4 linked regions of the Homo sapiens genome follow. The protein of the gene in region 1 purifies or fractionates together with the protein of each later gene. This does not show direct contact. Each region holds a gene or a part of one and is shown in the gene's direction. Other genes may lie near its edges. The genes, in order: TMEM255A, SEC24B, WWP1 and COLGALT2.

Region 1 (4,568 bases):
GGATAAGAAAAACAAAGCTTTACAGTAGATTAGCAAGGCAGATCTGGAAAGAGCCAAGTACTCTTCTTCATCCCATTGACTCTTAGAATAGTTTTATACTTGATTTGGTTTGGGTTTTTCGGGGAACATGGAGAAAGGATTGCAGCAACCATCAGAAGGAGGTGGTTGGAAGGAGACCTGGCAAGCAGAGCCTGGGAGCTCCTCAATGGGACAGTATGGGCACCTCCAAATAGGTATATTCTCTTAGCTATGTTAGGCTTCCAGGGCTGTTCCCAGAGGGAGGTGGAGTCCACTGTTACCCGCTTCCTCACCCTCCACCTCCCCTGGCCACCAGATAGATGTCTTGGGGGCACTCCAAGGAGGCCTCATCCTGATCTGCAGTTGTTTTGAGAACATTCAAACCACCTTTTGGTCCAACCACAAGGTGCTTCAAGCCCAATATCCTAATGGGGTCCAAAAGGATAGGTTCGAGAAGGATTTGGCTGTCTTCCAAGATCAATGACATTCCCACCTCATCCCCAGTTTCCCTTAGTAATCCACAGTGGATCTGTCAGCCATGACTTTACTTTCACTCTTTCCAAAGCTACTTGCATTTTCATCTTGCTGCATCTTTTGGAGCTAATGAATTCCTTAGGTTTTCCATTTGCTATAGAGAATAATAGTTCTTTTCAGTCGCCATAGCAAGAACACTCACCTTGGAGTCCAACAGATCTAGGTTCTAGCTCTCACTTCTGCCACTTACTAGCTGAGTGGGCACAGGATATTTTCTTCCCTTCTCTGAGATTCAGTTTCCTCCTCTGCATAATGGGGTTATTGATAACTCCTCTTCCTCCCTTGCATGGCTGCTATGATGATAAAATGAGATCCTTGTTATAAAAGCACTTGAACAGTACAAACTGGGGTTCTGGTGCAGAGTTATACTTTAGCTGAATTTTCTAGCTAAAGATTGGGGGCTGTTGGTTCTAGAATTCTCAGGTCTGGTGAATAAGGCTGTGCTCCTTCTCTCCGTCTCTGCATAATTTTATACACTCTGGTCACATCACTTCCCAGCCTTCATCGTTCTAGACTAAAGAGTCTGCGTTTGTTTAATCTATCTTCATATGTCAGCCACCACCCTCCCCCCGCCCCACACACACCATCCCTTTGATTATAGAGTGGCCCTTCTCTGGATCATCTCCAGCTCCATTATGTCATTCTGGAAGCACTAAGACCAGACCTGCTCAAGTGTGTGTGTGTGTGTGTGTGTGTGTGTGTGTGTTCCTCAGCTCTGAACCTCTGACTCTGACCCCCTCCCCAGTTATAAATCCTAGAACAGGATAATTACCCAAGACCCTGTCCAACTATAGAGAAGGTTGGTTGGCTTCATACTGAAGCCTCCCCCTCTTTCTCTGCGCAGCCCTGGCCCCAAGGGGCTAAAACTGCTCCCTGTCTGGCTTGGAAGGCTGGGAGGTGGATAACTAGGATGGGGAGACTGAGGGGGAGGGAGGAGGGGGGGGGTCTTGCGCAAGCGCACGCGGCTGCACGGACCGCCAATGCTGCTGCCTCCCAGAGCAGAGGGAGGCAGAAGAGGAGGGAGGGAGAAGAGTGGAAGGGAGGGGGAGGCGGCACTTGGGCTGCAGCTCGCAACCAGAGGCAGTGTCTCTCAGCTCTCGGAAGGACCGAGAGAGGCAACCGCGGAGTAGGATGCTCTGCGGGGCGCCCAGAGCCGGGGGCGCTTGAAGCAGCTTCGGGGACTGGGGCAACCGGGCAGTTTTCACCATGCATCAGTCCCTGACTCAGCAGCGGTCCAGCGACATGTCCCTGCCCGATTCCATGGGTAAGTCTAGCGGCCCTTCCTTCGGGCGGCGGCAGCAGGGGTTGAGTGCCCTGGCCTCTGGACTGTGAACGCCCCAGCTGCCCCAAAAGCCGGAGAGCGGGAAACGGGGCATGGATGGGGTGGTCTTCGCGCCCCAGCGTCTGGGTGGTGGACCAGAGTCCCAGGGGAGCGGCCTGGCTGCAGCGGGAGCGACGTGCGGAGATCGGAGCGCCAAGCTTGCGTCGGAGTATCTCTGCCCCGGAGTGCGGGTGTGTGCCTGTTTGTGTGCGTGTGTCTACAGACTTGCAGTCGGTGGTAAATCCCAGCAATCTGAGGATCAAAACACTTCCCTGCAACCTGCGCCTTCGCTTTCCATTCGACACTCCCTCTTTGCAAAGTCCTGGTCACTTCTAAGAGCTCACGACTAACGACAATTAGAAGCAGGGTCCTCGCCCCCTCCCAACTCTCTTGAAGCTGCCCTGAAATTTAGAGATGCAGTTGGGTGGGGGCCTGACTTGCACCTCGCTGATTGGGGGGGGGGGGCGGGTTGCGCAACTCTGGGGGATGGGCGGGGGTGAGAAGAAAGGGGGGGATGAGGGGAGGGGAATTCCTGAGGAATCACTCAAGACAGCCCAGCCCTGCCCTCTGCAGCGGCGGGATCAACATTCTTTGAATTTGATTGTTACTCTGCTCCAAATGCACGGAATGTGCATGAGTGTGAAAAGGGAGTCAGGGGCAGGAGTGAGAGCGCGAGAAAGAAACATCCAGCGCGAGCCCGCGCATCTTCTGAAGTCGCGCTTTTCCTCGCAGGGCGGAATGGAGGGGGAGGGGCACCCTTCGACTCCTTTCCTTATAGAAACTGGGGGACAGCTACCTTCGGGCACCAACTTGGCTGCCCCTCGAAGCTGCTTTTTGGTAGTTACAAAAAAAAACAAACCCAGTCCCCCTCAGCTGTTAGGCACCTTCCCAAGCCCTGTGATTTCACTGGGCGGAGAAATTAATTTGGAGCCCTGGAGAGCGGGAGGGGATTGTAAAATCATGATCCCACCTAATCTTTTAAAATTCGCCTCGGATACACTTCAATCAAATCGAATTCTCTCTTTCCAACATACTTTACATTCTGCAAAATCCCTCTGTCCCGCAGTTCCTGCCATCAGTCTGCTCAGGTCTTCTCCGATGAATTTGCGGGAACATCTCGAGTGGAGGGGGCAGGGAGAAGATCGAACCCCCTATATAATCTCCCTACTGCCCGCAGAAGACTCAGTGTCAACAAAACTCGTTCACCGGAGGGGCCCCAGAAAGTGTTATCTCCTGGATGGTGGAAAGATCCGTATCCTCAATGGTTTTGCATATTCAGTATAAGAATTTGCTTTTTCATTTTTAAGGGCGTAGTTATTTACAACGGGGTACAAATGAGGCCAAGGACTTGGTCCGAATCCCGAGCCCAGCAGTACCAGACTCCCCCTTACTCCCAGCTCGCGCGCGCGCACTCTTTCTCCAACACACACACCACGCGCACACACATACAGAGGGAGAGGGAGAGAGAGAGAGCGCGAGAGCGAGAGAGAGCGACAGCGAGAGCGAGAGAGAGAGAGACAGAGAGGTGGGAATGCACTGCTTACCTTGGCCAGCTGTGGCGCCAACAACGCAGCCCTGGCTCCCCGACGCCAAGCTGTTGCGCTTCGCGAGGGAGGGCAGAGTGGAAGAGTGCTGGGGTTCCGCAGCGTCCATTCCCGCTGCGGACGACAACCACCTAACCACCTGCAAATCAAGCCACAGCGCCCCGGGCCCGTCTGCCTTCGGGGAGTGGGCTGGTTGGTGGCCCAGGGCTTAAAGAGTCGCTACTTGGCGCACTGCTCTGTGGGTTGGGGAACAAGATGAAGAGCTTTCTTTCTTGGGCTCCCAGGGGCCCTCAGCGATCTTGTGTTTCTCGAAAGGTCTGCGCAACAAACAGCTGAGTGGGCTTCGCCCAGCCCAGTCTCCACACTGCGGGAAAGGAATCATAAATCCCAGATAGAAGCGGAGCCGGCGCCACGCATTCCACTTTTTGAAGTCCGCAGACCGACGGCACTGGCAAATTCCTGAGTCCAGTGCTAACGCTGGGTTTCCACAGTTTGGACAGGGGAGTCTCCCCGGAGTTCCCTGGCCCTGGTCCCGCACAGTCCGGGCCTGAATCAGCGTCTAGGCTACTTAGGAGCTACTCCCACTTAGCTCTGGCAACACCACCTTCCCTTGCGTGGGGGGAAGAGGACAGTGGGTAGGTAGGTTAGTGTTTCAGCCTCCAAGGGCAGCATTTCTGAGGGGACTCCCTTTATTGTCAAGACACAACCGCAACCAAAACAATAAAATTTAAAACACGCAGACACACTGCACCAAGGTGCCTGCACTCTACGCTTGCTGGCTGCCTGGGAATAGAGCAGTGCGTCCAAGGCTCAGAGTGGAGCAGGCGCTTTGCAATTAAGAAGATGGTAATTTGACTCCAGTGTCCCCCCATCCCCTCCCAGCAACCCCCTTCTCCCTTTTGGCAACACCGCCCCCAGGCGCAAAGGCACCTCTACTACAGTAGGGCATTCCTTCCTCCCAAATAACACATTTGTAATTCGCGGGCGGCCTCGGATGTTCTCCATTCAGAGAACTGTCTAAAGTGGGGAGGGATGGATTTCAGCGCCTTTAAGGAAATGTTTGGGAGATTGGCAGGGTCTTGAGGCCCTTGTGTGGGCAGCCACTTGTTTCTAGGGATACTCAAGGCTGGGATATCCGGGGACCCACCCTG
Region 2 (3,785 bases), on another chromosome or scaffold:
TCACTTCTGTGATAGTGGCATTAATGCATTCATAAGGGCACAGCCTCTTAATACCGTTACAATGGCAATGAAATTTCAAGATGAGTTTTGGAGGAGCAAACATTTAAACCATAGCAGTCATGCTCCTTCTGTAGGCTCATAGGGGAGTAATATGTTCATTGACTCTTCCTACTTGTCTCACTGTTGGCATTCCTTGGCTTGTGGCTACATCACTCTGTGCTCCAACTTCACATTGCCTTCTCTCTGTTTATGTGTATGTCTTTTCTTCTGTATGTATATTTTATAAAGATACATGTGATTGCATTTAGAACCCACTCAAATAATCCAAGAGAGGCTCCTCTTCCCCAGATCTTTAACCTAAGCATGTCTTTTGTCATTTAAGGCAATAATCACACTTTTCCATGTAATTTTCACAGGATTGGGGGGATTAGGATGTGTACATAATCTTTTAGCGGGCCACTCTTTAGCCCACTACATGCTTTACTGATTATTACAAGTGTTAGACTGCTATGTGTTGTCCCACAGGTCTCTCGAATTTTGTTCATTTTTCTTCAGCCTTTTTTTTTTCTCTATGTTTCTTAGATCATTTTCTTAACCAATCTTCAAGGTTGGTCAACTTAATCAAGGTTCATTAAGTCTTCTGCCATACTGTAGAGACCATTTAGCATATTTATTTGTTTTATTTTGAATATTTTTTAAATAGTTTTCATTTCTCTCGATATCCCTTGTCTGTTCATTTACTGGTAACATTTTCCCCCAATTTTTGGAATATATTTTCTTTTCATTTTTGGAATAGATTTATAAAGACTTTGCAGTCTCTGCCAAATTTGGCTTCTGGGCCCACTTTGATTCTGATCTCTACCTCCCTTATTGCTGGGCATCCTGACATCTCCCACTTCTGCACAGTTAAGCTGCCAACTAGAGACTTGACCCAACAATTGCAACTGGTAGGAAGTTATTTTTAGTAAAGTGAATGAACACAAAAATTACCTACAGATCTATTTATTAGGTGGTTTATGTTAAAAAAATGAAAACCTAAATGGCAGATAGAAAATTGATTAAAATATGGTAAATTCATGTAATGGAATACTATTCAGACATTAAAAATAATGATGGAAAGATATTCAAATCATGCTAAATGAAGGAATCATTTAAAAGATACATTATAATCCCACTTTTGCTTAACTAAATTATACATATATATGCAAAAAGAAAATACTGGGTGGATATACATCAGAATGTTAGCAGGTTATCTCGGGAAGATTAAGATGATTTTTATTTGATCACTTTCTGTATTTTTTTTTTTTACAATGACTGTATCACATTTGTGATAAGAAAAGTACTTCTGAAGTTATTTTTCAGAAATTTTACTATATATGTAACAAATTTTTTTCCTCCACAACTTTTATGTCTATTTTAGAAGTATTAAAATACCAGCAGTCTTTTCATACATGCTGCAGAATCATTTTGAATCCCAAGAAAGATCACAGATGAATAATTACTACAAGAGTTTTTTATTCAGATAAGTTAAACATAATATATGTATATGTGTACATAATGCACTGTGTTGCTCTACTCTTCGAAAAAATAGTTCTTTCTTGGAATACAATATTTGGAGGCCATAGAGCTTAAATAAATGTGGAAGAAAACTGAAGCAGGTACACGAGAAAAGAATAGGGGGAAAACACTGAGGGCAGAAAATTTAATCTGTCATGAGAGGCAGAAACAACTGGAATCATAGACATATGCTGTAGACTTTCACCATCCAGTGTGGTGGCCACTAGCTGTACATGGCTGTTGAGTACTTGACATATGGTTGATCAGATTGAGAAGTGCTATAAGTGTAAAATACATAATGATTTTTGAAGAAATAGTACAAAAAAGCAAAATATCTCAGTAATTTAAAAATACTGAATACATGTTAAAAATGATTTACATTTGTCTTTATTAACTTTAATTACTTTCAGATACTTTTTTATACATTGGGAACATTTAGGTCTTGATATAAAGTATGAAATAGTAAGCATCCACATATGATTAGATATATTAGATATTCCCACCCCCCATGTTTTCCTGGAGTAAGTACCTTTCTTTGATAGGCTAGAAAGTAAATAGACTTATTCTGGTGGGCAACTCACTTCTGATAAATTTCAGCAGCTAGGACATTCCTGTTATTTTTAAAAGAATGACATTTGAATAGTTGGGACATAATGATTATTTCTCGTTTCAGATCATGTAGCATGGATATGCCAGATCAGTCACTAAGTGGGTAGATATTTGAACAGATTTCTCTAAATCTGACTTGGCTCTTCATTGATAAATTCTACTAGTGTAGAGTTTTCTGACACTACAGTGAAAGGTAGCAGATCCATCTTTTAATATATTTAAATAGGAGAAAGGAGGACAACATTTTACTTTTGTCGTGTTAATGAAAGATCCTAACAGACTTTATTTCCTTAAGTAAATAAATTCTTTCAGATGAATTATTACCATCTAAAATAATCTAAGAAAAGTAAATTATACACCTAGTAAAATAGCGTTATCAGTATTTTGGTTTTCTGTATACTTCTTGGAATTATAGGAGGAATGTAGATGATATTTTTCCCTTACAGCTTGACTGTGTAAGTTATTTTTATGCTGGCCGTAGAATATATATTACATGACCAGAAATGAAGATTCCATTACATTACTTAGTACAAATTGAAAACAATTAGAAAATGTATGCTTTATTCTTATCTCTTTTATAAACAAGTATTTTAATACATTATTATGGCAAGGAGTGTAGTGGTACTTCCTTTGTGTACTTGTGTCAGTGGAGCTAAAACATCTTGTCAATTTTCTATTAAATTATCCTTTGATTTGAGATATGGCACAGATACCTGTTTCCTTCCACAAGACAGAAAAATTAGATTCCAAGATAATTAAGATTTGCCCAAAACCCAAAGAAAAGTAATTGGAACTAAAACTAGAATTCTGTTTTTGGGACAATTGGCCATTTGTAGCAAAGGACAGCAGATCATTGGTTAAGAGCATAAACTTGAGCCAGATTGCCTGATTCAAATTCCGGCCCATTTAGTTCCTAAGCATGTAACTGTGTTAAACATCTTGACTTTTGTGGCTCACTTATTGATAAATGGGTATAATAATACTATTTACTTTAGAGGATTAAAGAAGTTAATATATGTAAAGCATTTAGAACAGTGAATGGCATATAATGTAATATATTAATATATTAATATTAATAAGACTAATATTAGGATTAATGTTTTGTTGGTATTAATAAAATAAATATATGCTATACTTATCAAAGATATATAAAGATGAAAGTATAAAACACTAGAGTAAAACATGGTTTTATAGTTTTATAATCTTGAAATGAAGAAACCTCTACTAAGTATGATTTAAAAATCTGTCAAGCATAAAAAAAGAATTTTACTACATAATCAAGAAACTATAGCAAAAGATACCATGAACAAAGTGAAAACATAACAGTAACCTGGGGGAAATACTTACAGCACATAACATTAGGCTAATTTTCTACTGTGTGAGAACAGCTAGAAATCATTAAGGAAATCGCAATGCTACAGAAAAAGCAAACAGCAGAGAAAGACACCCAAATGAGAGTCTCAGCATCATTCAAAGTTAACTACTGTAAACTAAAGTGTTTCTCACTTTTCAGATTGGCAGAGATTAATATATAGTCAGTATTGGGACAATGAGGCAATATGAAGCATTATTGATGGGAGGTATAAATTGATAGACCTTTTAAGAGATATTTGCCAATA
Region 3 (3,785 bases), on another chromosome or scaffold:
CAGAATATATTTCTAGGTTATAAGAATGGAGGCATACATAAAAATGTGTTTTTATGTATGTATGAAAATATAAAAGATACTAATTAAAAGTTTATTTCTATAAATGATACTGGAGTTGAGTGTTAGTTTTATTAGTGGGCATTTGTTTTAAAGAAAATTGTGATAACTGTTCTATTTTTAAACAAATAATATTGCCTCATTTAAACATCATAATTTCCTATATGTTCTTCTCCCATTTCATCTTCCCTCTATAGATTAGTATGGAAGGACTGGGAGAGTAAAGTATTGATGCCAGTGTATTATTTTTAAATCATTTTCGAAAAACTAATAATTAATTTGATAGTTGATAGTCTCCTCTTCGTGACATTTTATGAACTTAGTGTCTTGGCTGGGAGCGGTGGCTTACACCTGTAATCCCAGCACTGTGGGAGGCTGAGGCGGGTGGATCGCTTGAGCCTAGGAGTTCGAGACCAGCCTCAGAAACATGGCAAAACCTTGTCTCTACAAAAAATACAAATATTAGCCGGGTGTGGTGGCGCATATCTGTAGTCCTAGCTACTCGGTTGTTGCTGAGGTGGGAGGATTGCTTGAGCCCGGGAAGCAGAGGCTGCTGTGAGCTGAGATCACGCCACTGCACCCCAGTCTGGGTAATAGAGCAGGAAGATCCTGTCTCAAAAAACAAAGAACTTTGTGTCTTGAAATTGCTATATTTCCTTATAATGTGGACCTATCTATCTGTCTATATAATAATATAGATATATTTTTGAGACAGCTTCTCGCTCTGTTGTGCAGGCTGGAGTGCAGTAGTAGTGTGATCACAGTTCACTGTAGCCTCCACCTCCTGGGCTCAAGTGATCCTCCCACTTCAGCCTTCCAAGTAGCTGGGACTTTAGGCATGTGCCAACACATCTGGCTAATTAAAAAAAAATTTTTTTTTATAGAGACAGGATCTTCCAGGCTGGTCTTGAACTCCTGGGCTTAAGTAATCCTCCCACCTTGCCCTCCCAAGGTGCTGAGATTACAGGCATGAGCCACTGCGCCCAACCCCTTATCATATTTTTAGAAAATTATTATAAAATGTGATTCTGCCACATGCTTGGCTTATTTCTACTTTCATATTAAAACACTGTTATTTTATTTCTCTCCCTAATCTTTTCTCCAATCAGGCTTCAATGTTAGCTGCAGAAAATGACCCTTATGGACCTTTGCCACCAGGCTGGGGTAAGCTGTTTTTGCTAATGATCTATAAGGGAGATATATATCTCTCCATATATATATATATATATATATATATATATATATGTTCCTTATTTTATATATATATATCTCCCTTATATATGTCCCTTAACATATATATATCCCTTATAATATATAATATATTTAATATGGATTATATATTCTATATATTATATATTCTGTAGAATGTTATATATTCTGTATACTATATAGAATATATAATCCATATTAAATATATTATATATTATAAGGGATATATATGTATATTATATATGTATATATTATAAGGGATATATATATGTATATTATAAGGGATATATATATGTATTATATATATAATATACAGAATATATAGAATAGATTATATATTAAAGAATTATATATTATAGAATATATATTATATTCTACATAATTATCTATAATATAATATATATTATATTCTCTATAATATAATATATGTTATATTCTCTATAATATATATTATATTCTATATAATATATTCTATAATATATAAGGGATACATATATCCCTGATATGTTTTTATATATATAATATATATTATATATAATTATATGTGTTCCTTATTTTATATATAGATCCTAAATAGTTATTAAATATTATACTCACTTTATATTTCAGAAAAAAGAGTGGATTCAACAGACAGGGTTTACTTTGTGAATCATAACACAAAAACAACCCAGTGGGAAGATCCAAGAACTCAAGGGTATGTATATACAGCAGCCTTAAGTCGTCTTGCATATATCAGTAGGTAGAACCAACCAACCTTGAATGAGATATTTTTAGTACCTAGAAAAGGTTCATCTTGTGATTTTAACTTTATCTTTTAGCTTACAGAATGAAGAACCCCTGCCAGAAGGCTGGGAAATTAGATATACTCGTGAAGGTGTAAGGTACTTTGTTGATCATAACACAAGAACAACAACATTCAAAGATCCTCGCAATGGGAAGTCATCTGTGTGAGTGAAAACCTGAAGTTCTCCTTTAAATATTGCTTAGTGAGCACATGAGATTTAGTCTCTAATTTATCCTCAAGTTTAGCAAAACATTTTACTTTTTGGTTCAAGAAAACCTACACAAGTGAAACCTTAGTATAGCTGTCTTTGCTCTCATTTGACAATGGATTTGCAGCATGTAAACTATTTATGTAGTGATTACTGTGTGCCGAGGATTGTTCTAAGTACTTCATAGGTATTAACTCATTTTATCTTCCAATAACCCCTTGAGGTAGATACTATTATTTTTCCCTTTACCAAGTGAGGAGAGGTATAGGGAGCATAACTAACTGTGCAAAGTTATAAGGCAAGTAATGGAGCTGGTTTCTAACGATGACAGTCAGTCTCTGTCTAGACTCTGTGCTCTTAACTGCCACATCACACTGCTGCAATGAGATGGTCAGTGAAATGATTTTTCCAGATTTAAAGATACCTTAATTAAGCGGTTGACAGATCTCTCCTTCATTCTTACTCTAAGGTGTCATGTCTTTGCATAACTAAGAAAATAGAAGCAATCCTAAAAGGTCTTTTGCAAAGTTGTACCACCATATCTGTCCGTCTCCTACCATCTCTCCTCCCTCCTGTTCCTATAGATGAACTGTCATTGTTATTATCAAAGTCTCGTCCCTCTGCTGGTACATTCGATTCCTACCCCCACTTTTCTACTTAATTGCTCCAACAGTTATCACCTTTGTGTTGCATTATCAGGTTTTATTTCTCTACAAAATTATTCTTATCAGCTGTTATTTCTCCTAGATATAAAAAAAAAGCAAAAAAAAAAAGAAATTACAACTCTTCCCTTTACCAATGTGTTCAATCGCAGTTCATTTTTTTGTTTTTTTTTTGAGACGGACTTTCGCTCCTGTTGCCCAGGCTGGAGTGCAATGATGCGATGTCAGCTCACTGCAACCTCCACCTCCTGGGTTCAAGCGATTCTCCTGCCTCAGCCCCCTGAGTAGCTGGGATTACAGGCACCCGCCACCACACCCAGCTAATTTTTGTATTTTCAGTAGAGATGGGGTTTCGCCATGTTGGCCAGGCTGGTCTCGGACTCCTGACCTCAGGCGATCCACCTGCTTTGGCCTCCCAAAGTGCTGGGATTACAGGCGTGAGCCATCACACCCAGCCCACAGTTCATTTTTATTGCTCCCCTTTACAGGAAAGCTACTTGCATGGTTGTCTCTGTATTGCTGTTCATAGTTTCTCCTTTAAACCAACTCCAAGGAAGTTCCCCTGACACTGAATTTGCAAGGGCACCAATGATCTTCACATTGTTAATCCAGGCGTTGGTTTGCAGTCCTGCCTGATTTGACTTACCAGGAACATTTGACACAATACATTTCTCTCTCCTGGCAAAAGTAGTGCTGTGAGCCATACTTTCTTGATTTCCCTCTGCGTTTCTGTTCTTCTATCTTTATTTTGTCGAGTCCTCCTTTTTTTCCTAAGCCTCTTTTTTTTTTTTTTTTTTTGTTAACTACATTCATTCTCTTGATGCATCTTACTCAGTATTATGCTTTTAAAACATGTGCCTGCTAA
Region 4 (3,785 bases), on another chromosome or scaffold:
GTTGTACATAAATATGCAGGTCACTTGCTGTGATCATAGCTACATAACAGTAGAAAGAAATTTCTCAAGTATTATTAGTGGCAAATGATTAAGGTGGCACTAATCATACACGTATTGGCTACATTTTCAGTTCATATTGGTAAAATAGAGATTCCATTTTTCAGGCTTTTTAATCAGTAGTCTTAGATTTGGTTGTCCCCTAAATTCAGCTTCATTCCAAATGATTGAAGAAATTATCAATCCTCCCTGCAACCTCCAATTTCAAAATATGATTGGAGCTCAGAATATTTCCTCTGGGTAAAAACTGAAGTGACTAATAAATGACACCAATCCTGTTGTTCCAGTTATGACAGCTTAACTACAGAATTAGTAAGAATGCCTAAGTTGCCCTGGTTTTATTATATTGAGTTCCATGATGAGGCATCTAAAGCACAGGGCAGTTAAGAGATTCCCATGGTGATTATGGAATGAGATAACTGATTTCTAGATTTTTAATCCTGTGTAGCTGTTTTAATGCTGATTATTTTATAATGAATATCCTTCTTGGTTTAAAGGAGCATGGGGAGTATTTTAAGCAGAGTTTGGTTTTCTCAGATCTGTTTTTAGCTCCTTTATCCAAGTGATTAGGCCAGGGAGTTTCTTTGTGACTCCAAATACATAAGCATGTGCTTCTTAGGTTCCTTTTGCTTGTCTGTTTCTGGTGGTCATAGGAATGAACAATGAATGCCTTGTAACTGAGAAGGCTGCTGGTTGTCTCTTGGTTCTTTTTCCAACACTTAAACGTGCACTTGGGTCATATTGCTGTGTGGCACCGTCTCCAAGTCTATGGCACAGTATAGTAGGACCATTATAAGGCTTATATAGGACTATAGTAGGACAATAATAAGGCTTGTTTCTGCATATTTCTTGACATAGCATAACAACATACAGTAAAGTCTGAAAGAAAATCATTAGCCTATGGTATGGCCACTACACCTATTCCCCAGTTACCATATCATGAAGAACTTTTACCATATGTGTTTAAATTATAGCTATTATTCATCAGGAATTACAAAACGTATGTATTCTATGTTTTGACATTTTTATTTCAAAAGAGTGACTTGTTCATTTAATTGCATTTAATTGATATGTTGTTAGCATATCAAAAATTGTTAGTTTTTAAAAATTTGAATCCCTTAGGGTCTTTATGGATTTTTAATAGTACTTCAGTTATTTTAAGAATTTGCTCTTCTGACTTTTTTAAATGGGAAAGTAATAAAAAAAGTATGATTGGGAATATCACAAAAAGTAAATCTCCCATCTACTCTATACCACCTGCCAGTGACCAATATTAACACTTTCTTTCATATTTTTCTAGAAACTTTCTATACATATACATATATCCTTTTCATTTTAACCCAAATATGAGTGTTTTACATATCCAGTTCTGGATAAGTGTGATATTTTAAAATCCATCTCTCTATCCCATGTTCTTTAAACACTGCCAGCCTATCTACAGCCATGCCCTGGGTGGCACAATAAAAGCCAGCTTCATATAACACCTGTTCCAGGCAGGTACTCTGAAGGCCTCTCTGATAACACCCGTCCTGCTCTCTTGTCCTTGTCTCTCTGGCCTCTAGAAGGTCTGGCCCTAATAAAAAAAACTTTTTGATGAGGTGTAATATTTATCCAAAAGTTCATATATCATAAATGTATAACTTGGTAACTTTTCACAGACAAAACATGCCATGTAACCAGCACCTGACCTTGCCAGGCCTGGATTCATACACAGCAACTATTGTTGGAGCTGAGTAGCTGCTGTCCCCTGGATTTTGTCCAGGCAGCCCAGTCCCCATCAGACCCACACTGTGTGCACTTGCAGTTAGTCCCCGCTGTCTTTCTTTGACTTGACTTGCCTGACCCATGTTGACATTTGGGTGGTGAGCTTTGCTCCCACCTCAGGCTGCTGAAGGAACCCTAGGACCCAAGCAGTAACTACTTTGGGGAACCAGCAGGCTTGGCAAGCTGCCAGCGAGTGACCTAGTGGTAAAAGGATCAGGATTGTATTACTTTTCCCTTAGCTCTCTACTCCTCTGGTAGGAAAGCTGTGCATTAATGTTCATAAAAATAAAAATCTCATTATAGGTAATAATTGAAAAGTCAGGTAGAATATAAATAGAGTGGCTGTAATTAATTTGCTGGAACTTTCTGTAGTTCAGATCCGTGAAAATGCAGCATTTGTGGTAGGTGGCATTAGCCAAGTCTCTTGCATGAATTAAACCTCAGATTTGGCTGCAGGGCGTTTCTTTTCCTCTCTAGGAGCACCATACAGAAATCCTTTCAGAGTTAGACTTTGAATAATAGCTCCATGACATCTTGCTAGGGCTGACTTTGTAACGTGTTTCACTTAATTGAAGCAACAATTATTATTTTAGTTGTTTGTCAAATTCAGCAAGCTAAGGCCTGTCCCCTGACTTGTTGGTTTAACTGATAAGATTTTGTTCCTCTGCAAACATAATGCAAAATAATCTCCTTCCCTCCAGTGTTTTCTGATTAATGTTTGAAGACATCTTAGAAGATATGTCTTTCAGAAACACAAATAATAACATAAATAATGATCTTAGAATAGTGATCTTGGGCTGTATACCCCCAAGAGTATGGTAGAAGATGAGTCTGGGACAAGCTGCTGAGCTGAAGCATTTTCATGAGTACCTGATTTCATTCACACATTGGCTTTATTGGAATAGTTCATTACCTTCCAGGTTGAATCACTTCAAGACCTATTGAGGGATACATCAGGCTGCAGAGAGGAGGTTCCTTACATAGAGCTTTCCCCATTTGGACTGCCAAGCCCAAAGTGCATACAATTGCTGCCAAGAGGGAAGTAGGACTGTTTCTTTCCAGTCCCTTTTCTTTCTGAGAGTGATTGTATATGTTTTGGAGATGGGGAGGGCAGTGGTGAAGGCAAGTATCTCATTCTCACAAGAGAGAGACATAACTCTAAGACAGGAGAGTCTGTGGAGGTACATTGATTGGTGTTCTCCCTGAAAGCCATATTAAGTGAGAAACTGCTGCATTTTAGAGTCTTGGGAAAGGTAGAATTTTCTAGAGACTAACAGTAGAACTTAAATTCTTGGGATAGTTGTGAAAAGTGTGGTTGTAGACATTTGGGGCCATAGCATTCCCGACACGGAGTCCCTTGCTGGACTAATAGACTGTTTTTTAGTTTCTTGGTTGCCAGCCAGCCCCATAATCCTGTCTCAGCACCACACACCACAATGATTATGGTTTACACCCGCCAAGATAGTGGAAAGTTGCTGCCAAGTGGAATCAGGATTTTTCATGTCATCACTGCACCATTGAACAGTAAGCTTATATGCAGCTTCCACGCCACTGCTTTCCTTGTGCTAGAAACAGGTTGGGCGGGAGAGTATTCAGACAGTCAGACCATCTCTTGTGTTGCAAATGGATTTTGTGGAATTGGCATGTAAGGCTTGAAACAGCCAGCATACGAAAATATTTTAGAAAAGTACAAGCCTCTTCTCTGCCTTTCCTCAATCTTGTTAGATTTTAATAAAATTTATTGGGTACGTTGGTTTCCATTGTAAGCTTTTTATTTAGCAAGACAAACTATGGATTTCTAAAACAATGGATTTTTAAAATGTTACATCCTTTTATTTATTCCACCATCACTGATTGTCTATGTGGATAAATCCAGGTAATCATGTTGAAATTAGTAATTGAGGTGGCCTAAAAGTGACTTGTCCCCATTGGTCTAGTTCATTGTCCATGAGTGGACATGGTCC

The links.
Region 2: the proteins of TMEM255A (region 1) and SEC24B purify together in Homo sapiens (affinity purification with mass spectrometry; 2 studies listed by BioGRID and IntAct, with this or other methods). This does not show direct contact.
Region 3: the proteins of TMEM255A (region 1) and WWP1 purify together in Homo sapiens (affinity purification with mass spectrometry; 3 studies listed by BioGRID and IntAct, with this or other methods). This does not show direct contact.
Region 4: the proteins of TMEM255A (region 1) and COLGALT2 purify together in Homo sapiens (affinity purification with mass spectrometry, with the first as the bait; one large-scale study listed by BioGRID). This does not show direct contact.

What each region holds. Positions count from the first base shown.
Region 1 is NC_000023.11:120,308,500-120,313,067, reverse strand, and holds the start of TMEM255A (transmembrane protein 255A), read left to right. Parts: upstream 1-1,606; 5' UTR 1,607-1,758; coding exon 1,759-1,816; intron 1,817-4,568.
Region 2 is NC_000004.12:109,457,539-109,461,323, forward strand, and holds part of SEC24B (protein transport protein Sec24B), read left to right. Parts: intron 1-3,785. UniProt on the Homo sapiens protein: Component of the coat protein complex II (COPII) which promotes the formation of transport vesicles from the endoplasmic reticulum (ER).
Region 3 is NC_000008.11:86,429,531-86,433,315, forward strand, and holds part of WWP1 (NEDD4-like E3 ubiquitin-protein ligase WWP1), read left to right. Parts: intron 1-1,166; coding exon 1,167-1,221; intron 1,222-1,875; coding exon 1,876-1,960; intron 1,961-2,084; coding exon 2,085-2,213; intron 2,214-3,785. UniProt on the Homo sapiens protein: E3 ubiquitin-protein ligase which accepts ubiquitin from an E2 ubiquitin-conjugating enzyme in the form of a thioester and then directly transfers the ubiquitin to targeted substrates.
Region 4 is NC_000001.11:184,027,563-184,031,347, reverse strand, and holds part of COLGALT2 (procollagen galactosyltransferase 2), read left to right. Parts: intron 1-3,785. UniProt on the Homo sapiens protein: Beta-galactosyltransferase that transfers beta-galactose to hydroxylysine residues of collagen.